Homo sapiens: one gene and its partner. The gene in region 1 interacts genetically with each later gene. Each region holds a gene or a part of one and is shown on either strand. Other genes may lie near its edges. The genes, in order: HCRT and CDC25A.

The links.
Region 2: changes in HCRT (region 1) and CDC25A together harm fitness more than expected from each alone (negative genetic interaction), as found in Homo sapiens cells (one large-scale study listed by BioGRID).

What each region holds. Positions count from the first base shown.
Region 1 is NC_000017.11:42,183,477-42,187,116, reverse strand, and holds HCRT (hypocretin neuropeptide precursor precursor), read left to right. Parts: upstream 1-1,664; 5' UTR 1,665-1,751; coding exon 1,752-1,772; intron 1,773-2,588; coding exon 2,589-2,963; 3' UTR 2,964-3,057; downstream 3,058-3,640. UniProt on the Homo sapiens protein: Neuropeptides that play a significant role in the regulation of food intake and sleep-wakefulness, possibly by coordinating the complex behavioral and physiologic responses of these complementary homeostatic functions.
Region 2 is NC_000003.12:48,174,876-48,178,690, reverse strand, and holds part of CDC25A (M-phase inducer phosphatase 1), read left to right. Parts: intron 1-702; coding exon 703-837; intron 838-1,248; coding exon 1,249-1,320; intron 1,321-3,815. UniProt on the Homo sapiens protein: Tyrosine protein phosphatase which functions as a dosage-dependent inducer of mitotic progression. Directly dephosphorylates CDK1 and stimulates its kinase activity. Also dephosphorylates CDK2 in complex with cyclin-E, in vitro.

The DNA of each region.
Region 1 (3,640 bases):
GCTGGGCGTGGTAGCTCACGCCTGTAATCCCAGCACTTTGGGAGGCCGAGGCGGGCAGATCACGAGGTCAGGAGATCGAGAACATCCTGGCTAACACAGTGAAACCCCGTCTCTACTAAAAATACAAAAAATTAGCTGGGCGTGGTGGCGGGCACCTGTAGTCCCAGCTGCCAGGAGGCTGAGGCAGGAGAATGGCGTGAACCCGGGAGGCGGAGCTTGCAGTGAGCCGAGATCGCGCCACTGCACTCCAGCCTGGGCGACAGAGTGAGACTGTCTCAAAAAAAAAAAAAAAAAAGAAAGAAAAGAAAAAGAAAAGAAAATGAAGAAAGAGAGAAGGCCAGGCATGGTGGCTCATGCCTGTAATCCCAGCACTTTGGGTGGCTGAGGCAGGCGGATCACCTGAGGTCAGGAGTTCCAGACCAGCCTGACCAACATGGAGAAACCCTGTCTCTACTAAAAATACAAAATTAGCCAGGCATGGTGGCGCATGCCTGTAATCCCAGCTACTCAGAAGGCAGAGGCAGGAGAATTGCTTGAACCCTGGAGGTGGAGGTTGCAGTGAGCTGAGATTGCGCCATTGCACTCCAGCCTGGGCAACAAGAGTGAAACTCCGTCTCAAAAAAAAAAAAAAGAAGAAGAAGAAGAAAGAAAGAAAGAGGGAGAGAGTGAGAGAGAGAAAGAAAGAAAGAAATGCAGGAAGGAAGGAAGAAGGAAAGAAGGAAGGAAGAAAAAAAAAGCGGGGGGGCCTGGTGCAGTGGCCCACGCCTGTAATCCCAACACTTTTGGAGACTGAGGTGGGTGGATCACTTGAGGTCAGGAGTTTGAGACCACCCTGGCTAACATGGTGAAACCCTGTCTCTATTAAAAATACAAAAATTAGCTGGTTGTGGTGGCGTGTGCCTGTAATTCTATTCAGGAGCTATTCAGGAGGTTGAGGCAGGAGAATCGCTTGAACCCAAGGCGGAGGTTGCAGTGAGCCAAGATGACCATACCACTGCACTCCAGCCTGAGCAACAAGACCAAAATTTAGTCACACACACACACACAGAAAAGAAAGAAAGAGAAATTGGGCTTGGTTTTGGCTTCTTACCTCCCACTGTCTAGGCTGAGTTTTCAAGGTTTTCCATCTCAGAGGCTAGTGGAAAGGGCAGAAGGGAGAAAAAAAGCTAGGGGGAGGGGGCAGCTAAGGAGCCTTTCCATGAAGGAAGAAGGTCCTGGAGCCTGACAGTCCCCAGGAGCAGCGACAAGAAGCAGGGGAGGGAGAGGACTGCTGCTGGCTGCTCCACCCCCCACACACATAATGTGGGGTCTCGCGTCTGCCTCTCTCCCGCCCCTAATTAGCAGCTGCCTCCCTCCATATTGTCCCAGGCCAGCGCCTCTTTTGTGCTCCCAGATTCCTGGGTGCAAGGTGGCCTCATTAGTGCCCGGAGACCGCCCCATCTCCAGGGAGCAGATAGACAGACAAGGGGGTGATCAGGGGCACAGTGATCCAACCCTGGCCTCTGAACGCCGCAGCGGCCATTCCTTGGGCCCAGCCTGGAGACGGCCCCCCTGCAGCAGGCTAATCTTAGACTTGCCTTTGTCTGGCCTGGGTGTGGACGCAAGTGCCTGTCAATTCCCCGCCACCTCAGAGCACTATAAACCCCAGACCCCTGGGAGTGGGTCACAATTGACAGCCTCAAGGTTCCTGGCTTTTTGAACCACCACAGACATCTCCTTTCCCGGCTACCCCACCCTGAGCGCCAGACACCATGAACCTTCCTTCCACAAAGGTAAAGATCCAGGGATGGAGGGGTGACTCACCATCCCAGAGAAGCAAAAAGAGTGCTTGCTCAGAGGGCTGGAAGAAAGGCCAAAGGTGTCTCCACTCTTGGTCTTTTCCTGGGTGTGCTCTGAGGCAGGAGCACCTGCCTTGGCTCACATTGGGTTGGGTGCTGTTTTGCTAAGAGCCTGTGTTTGCTGAGCTCTATGTGTCAGGTGCTCCGTTTGCACCTGTCATCTCTTGTCATCCTCCCAACAGCCTTGCAGAGTAGAAATTATTTCTAGTATACCCAGTTTACAGGTAAGGGAGCTGTGCCCTCTGAAAGGGCAGGAAACTGGTTCAAAGCAACGGAGTTCAGTCACTCCTGCAAGGGGGCAGGCAGATGAGAGAGCATTCTGGAGTCTTGCTAGTTCCTGATTTCCATGTGTTTCCCTGCTGTGGAGAGGAAGTTGGGGGGACTCAGTAGGGCCCGGGTTTTTCCCAAGTTTACAACTTCTGCTGCAGACAGACACTCCTGTTTTCAGGTGGAGTGGCAAGTGCCCTAGTGGTGGCACAGTGGCCTAAGTCTCCAGAGAAAAGGGGGATTCACTCTGCCCAGGGGGTCTCAAAAGGCTTCCTGGGGGAGATGCTCTGCTGGGTCTTGAAGGAGGAGCAGGGAAAGTAGGCCGATACCAGCAAGGGCGCAAAGCAAGGAGAACTAAGTGACAGCCAGAAAGGAGTGCAGGCTTGGAGGGGGCGCGGAGCCAGAGGGGCAGGTCCTGGGCGTGGGAGCTGGTGGCGGGCGCCGTGGGAAGACCCCCCCAGCGCCCTGTCTCCGTCTCCCTAGGTCTCCTGGGCCGCCGTGACGCTACTGCTGCTGCTGCTGCTGCTGCCGCCCGCGCTGTTGTCGTCCGGGGCGGCTGCACAGCCCCTGCCCGACTGCTGTCGTCAAAAGACTTGCTCTTGCCGCCTCTACGAGCTGCTGCACGGCGCGGGCAATCACGCGGCCGGCATCCTCACGCTGGGCAAGCGGAGGTCCGGGCCCCCGGGCCTCCAGGGTCGGCTGCAGCGCCTCCTGCAGGCCAGCGGCAACCACGCCGCGGGCATCCTGACCATGGGCCGCCGCGCAGGCGCAGAGCCAGCGCCGCGCCCCTGCCTCGGGCGCCGCTGTTCCGCCCCGGCCGCCGCCTCCGTCGCGCCCGGAGGACAGTCCGGGATCTGAGTCGTTCTTCGGGCCCTGTCCTGGCCCAGGCCTCTGCCCTCTGCCCACCCAGCGTCAGCCCCCAGAAAAAAGGCAATAAAGACGAGTCTCCATTCGTGTGACTGGTCTCTGTTCCTGTGCGGTCGCGTCCTGCCCATCCGGGGTGGCAAAGCGTCTTGCGGAGGACAGCTGGGCCTGGAAGCCCGGCTGTCGGGCACCAGCCTTAGCTTTTGCGTGGTTGAATCGGAAACACTCTTGGTTGGGGAGTTCCCAGTGCAAGGCCCTGGGGCACAGAGAGAACTGCACAGGTGCATGCTTGGATCGGGCCATGCGGGACTCCTACGATGCTCTGCTAGGCATTCTGTAGCGGGGACTTTACCCAGAGACGCGGAAGGGGAAGGAAAGCAAGAAAGGTTGCAGCGGTCGGGCGCGGTGCTCACGCCTGTAATCCCAGCACTTTGGGAGGCCAAAGCAGGAGGATCCCTTGAAGCAAGGAGTTCGAGACGAGCCTAGGCAACATAGTGAGTGAGACATCTCTCCAAAAAGTTTTTTTAATTAGCGGGGTATGGTGGGCGAGAGGATTGCTTGAGCCCAGGAGTTTGAGTTTGAGCCATAATTGGGCCACTGCACTCCAGCCTGGGCAACAGAAGGAGGCACTGTCAAAAAAAAAAAAAAAAGAAAGAAAAAGAAAAAAGAAA
Region 2 (3,815 bases), on another chromosome or scaffold:
AAGAGTTTGGATTTTGGAGTCAAACAGATGAGGTGTATAATCTTGGTAACCTCTTAAGCACCAGTTTCCTGATTTGCTAAAGAAAAAGGAAAGGATTAGCTACCTTTAGTGTATTGTGAGGCTTCTATTGGATTATATGTATAAAGATTATATCGTAGTATCTGGCACACAGTAATTCCTCGTTTAAAAACTGAGCATTTAAATCCCAAGTCTAAAGAACGAGGATAGATTTTATAGAAGGAAGTTACCCTTTATTCCCCCCTGTCAGAACTGGAGTTATATATAAGTGCATTCTCTAGGCCATTTTATGGTCTTTATAGAGATTTGCATCTGCTTGCCCTAACTCATTTCAGCAGATTCTCATACTGTCACAGTCCTCAATGCTGATCGGTGTTCACTGATGCAACCTTCTAATAAAAGAAACCTTGTTCTTCACAAGAGGCTATCTCTAGTACCCATTATAAGGTGAATTGCTTCTGGCAAGAGTTCTCTGTAAAGGCTACTGACTACTCAGGGCTGTGTGTGGTCATCAAATCATTTATAATCTTGGGATACATTTTCATATAATCAGTAATGGCTAAAATTTTGCTTTGTATAACAAGTATAACATAGTATGTTTTCATCATAAAAACTAGTGACCCATTCAAGGAAATGAAAGTGGATCAGAGCTCTCATTATTAATCCATGAATTTTGTCTTACAGCTTTCCTCAAATGAAAGAGATAGCAGTGAACCAGGGAATTTCATTCCTCTTTTTACACCCCAGTCACCTGTGACAGCCACTTTGTCTGATGAGGATGATGGCTTCGTGGACCTTCTCGATGGAGAGAATCTGAAGGTACCGTGTGTGTGTGTGTGTGTTCCTATTTGTTCTACTAATTAATTACCTCTGGAGAAGGCATGTGATGTGAAAAAGAACAGCAACAGCAGTTCCCCGGGGCTTGCTTAGCTGATATTTTTGTTCATTTGGTGATAATTCATTTAATAATAGGGCTACCAGCCTTATTAAATCCTTTGGATTGGGGGATGGGGGCATCAAAAGAAGACACATGATCCTTCTTACCCTGAAGGAGCTAACTAACAATCTATATGCAAGAAACATGAAATCAGAACGGTATAGGATGGTACATTAAGGATACTTCCTATCCAGGCCTATCTGGTATTGTTCAGGGAGAAACACACCTAAAGCACTTAAACAAATGTTAGTCTCTACAGGCTCTTTTTAAAATCAGTTTTTCTGTTTCTTTAGAATGAGGAGGAGACCCCCTCGTGCATGGCAAGCCTCTGGACAGCTCCTCTCGTCATGAGAACTACAAACCTTGTGAGTTGTTCTAGTGTGTCTGGAGGAAGCCCTGCGTGATTGGGGCACTGGACAGAGTAGTCCTTAGTTGAGTATAGCCAAAGATTGAAATGCATGATAGGATTTGGGGATCTGGGTTTTAGGCCTCACTTTGGCTACCTACAAATTATGACCTTTAGTCATGATATCTCTCTGCATGTCTCCTGATGTATAAGGAGTGTGGGTTAGGAGGGACCATGGTCATTCCTAGCTTTTACCATCTAGTCAGTTTGAAAAAAGCCTATCTGAAGCCTTTAGCCTGAATACTTTACTTTTTTTAGGTTATTCTCATTTATATTCCACAGAACCTAGCATAAAATTAGACAAGCAACAGTAACTCACAGGATTTTTTTTGTTTCTGTGTTTTTTGTTTTTTTTTTTGAGACGGAGTCTCGCTCTTGTTGCCCATTCTAGAGTGCAGTGGCACAATCTTGGCTCACTGCAACCTCTGCCTCCCAGGTTCAAGTGATTCTCCTGCCTCAGCCTCCCGAGTAGCTGGGATTACAGGTGCCTGCCACCACACCCAGCTAATCTTTGTATTTTCAGTAGAGACGGGGTTACATTATGTTGGCCAGGCTAGTCTCGATCTCCTGACCTCAGGTGATCTGCCCACCTCGACCTCCCAAAGTGCTGGGATTACAGGCATGAGCCACTGTGCCTGGCTGGATGTTTTTTGTTGCTGTTTTGTTTGTTTGTTTTGTTTTGTTTTGTTTTTCATTGAAAATACCTACCTGAGGCTGGGTATTTTCAGGTAGATATTTTCGATTTTAAAAATTATATATAATATATATTTTATATATATATATATATATATATATATACTCACACACACACATACACAGTATAGATTTGTGTTTCCATCAGGGATACTTTCAAACAGAAAGCATAGTATATGTAGATACAGAATCTATAGTGTATGTGTGTATATATATTCAAAATCACATATATATACACACACATACACATGCTATAGATTCGTGTTTTCATCATAGGGATACTTTCAAAGTTAGAAGCAAGAATGTGCCTATACAGATATATACACCTGTATGTTCAGAGATATACACCCTTAGGTACACATCTAAATTGATAAGTTCATATTTTTTAATTCTCAATAACCTGAACTATAATTACAGAACAAATGAGCTACAGTTTTTTTGTTTGTTTGTTTTGTTTTGTTTTTGAGACAGAGTCTCCCTCTGTTGCCCAGGCTGGGGTGCAGTGCAGTGGTGTAGTCTTGACTTGCTGCAACCTCTGCCTCCTGGGTTCAAGTGCTTCTTCTGGCTCAGCCTTCTGAGTAGCTGGGACTACAGGCTTACGCCACCACTCCCGGCTAATTTTTTTGGTATTTTTAGTAGAGACGAGGTTTCACTATGTTGGCCAGGCTGGTCTCGAACTCTTGACCTCAGGTGATCCATCCACCTGCCTCCCAAAGTGCTGGGATTACAGGCATGAGCCACCGTGCCCAGCCAAGCTACAGTTTTGAGATCACTTATGGATTATAGTACATTCATGTGCATAGCTTTTGAGAAAATATGTTAACGCAGTACAAATGTTATGAGTAAATTTACCAGGTCATTTTGATAGGCATAAAATTACATAAAATGTGAGAACACTTTGGAAGTGGCTGTTAGTTTTATAGATTTGATTTTAGAGTCATAAGCATGGGCTTGTAAGCTCTTAATAGTGGGGAAATGTCTTCCACAAATGGTTATTACAAACTAACCATTGCTGGGAGCTGTAATGGAAAATAAACTTCACACAAAAGAGGAAGAAAATCCCCGGTCTCTATGGGAGCAGATGTGGGAGTGATCCATTCTACTGGGGACTATCAGGAAGATTTCAAAGAAGTGACATTGAAATGTTAGCATCAACTTGAAAATGAATGGTTTACTGAGATGTGAAAGGACATTCTGTGCAGAAGGAAAAGCCAGGCCAAGACACATGGAGTCGAGAATAGGCTGAGATGCGTTTAGAGAGCTGACTCTTGCTACCACTGGTCAGATTGGCTTCCCTTGGGCTCTGGAAAATTTGTCTTTATTTATTTATTTATTTATTGAGACAGAGTCTTGCTCTGTCACCCAGGCTGGAGTGCAGTGGTGCAAATCTTAGCTCACTGCAACCACCACCTCCTGGTTTCAAGTGATTCTCGTGCCTCAGCCTCCTGGGTAGCTGGGATTAAAGGCACGCACCACCACACCTGGCTAATTTTTTTGTATTTTTAATAGAGATGGGGTTTCTTCATGTTGGCCAGGCTGTTATTGAACTTGTGACCTCAAGTGATCCCACAGTGTTGGGATTACAGGCGTGAGCCACCGCGCCCAGCCTGGGAAATTAGTCTTTAAAAGACCAAGTAGAAAAAAAGACTTTGAACACAATTTTGAAAGGCATTTGCTACTCTGCCCATCCCCACTCCCTCCAAATTTACCATCTTAACTATACCTTAACCAAAGATGCCCCCATTTTTATTATAACCTGGC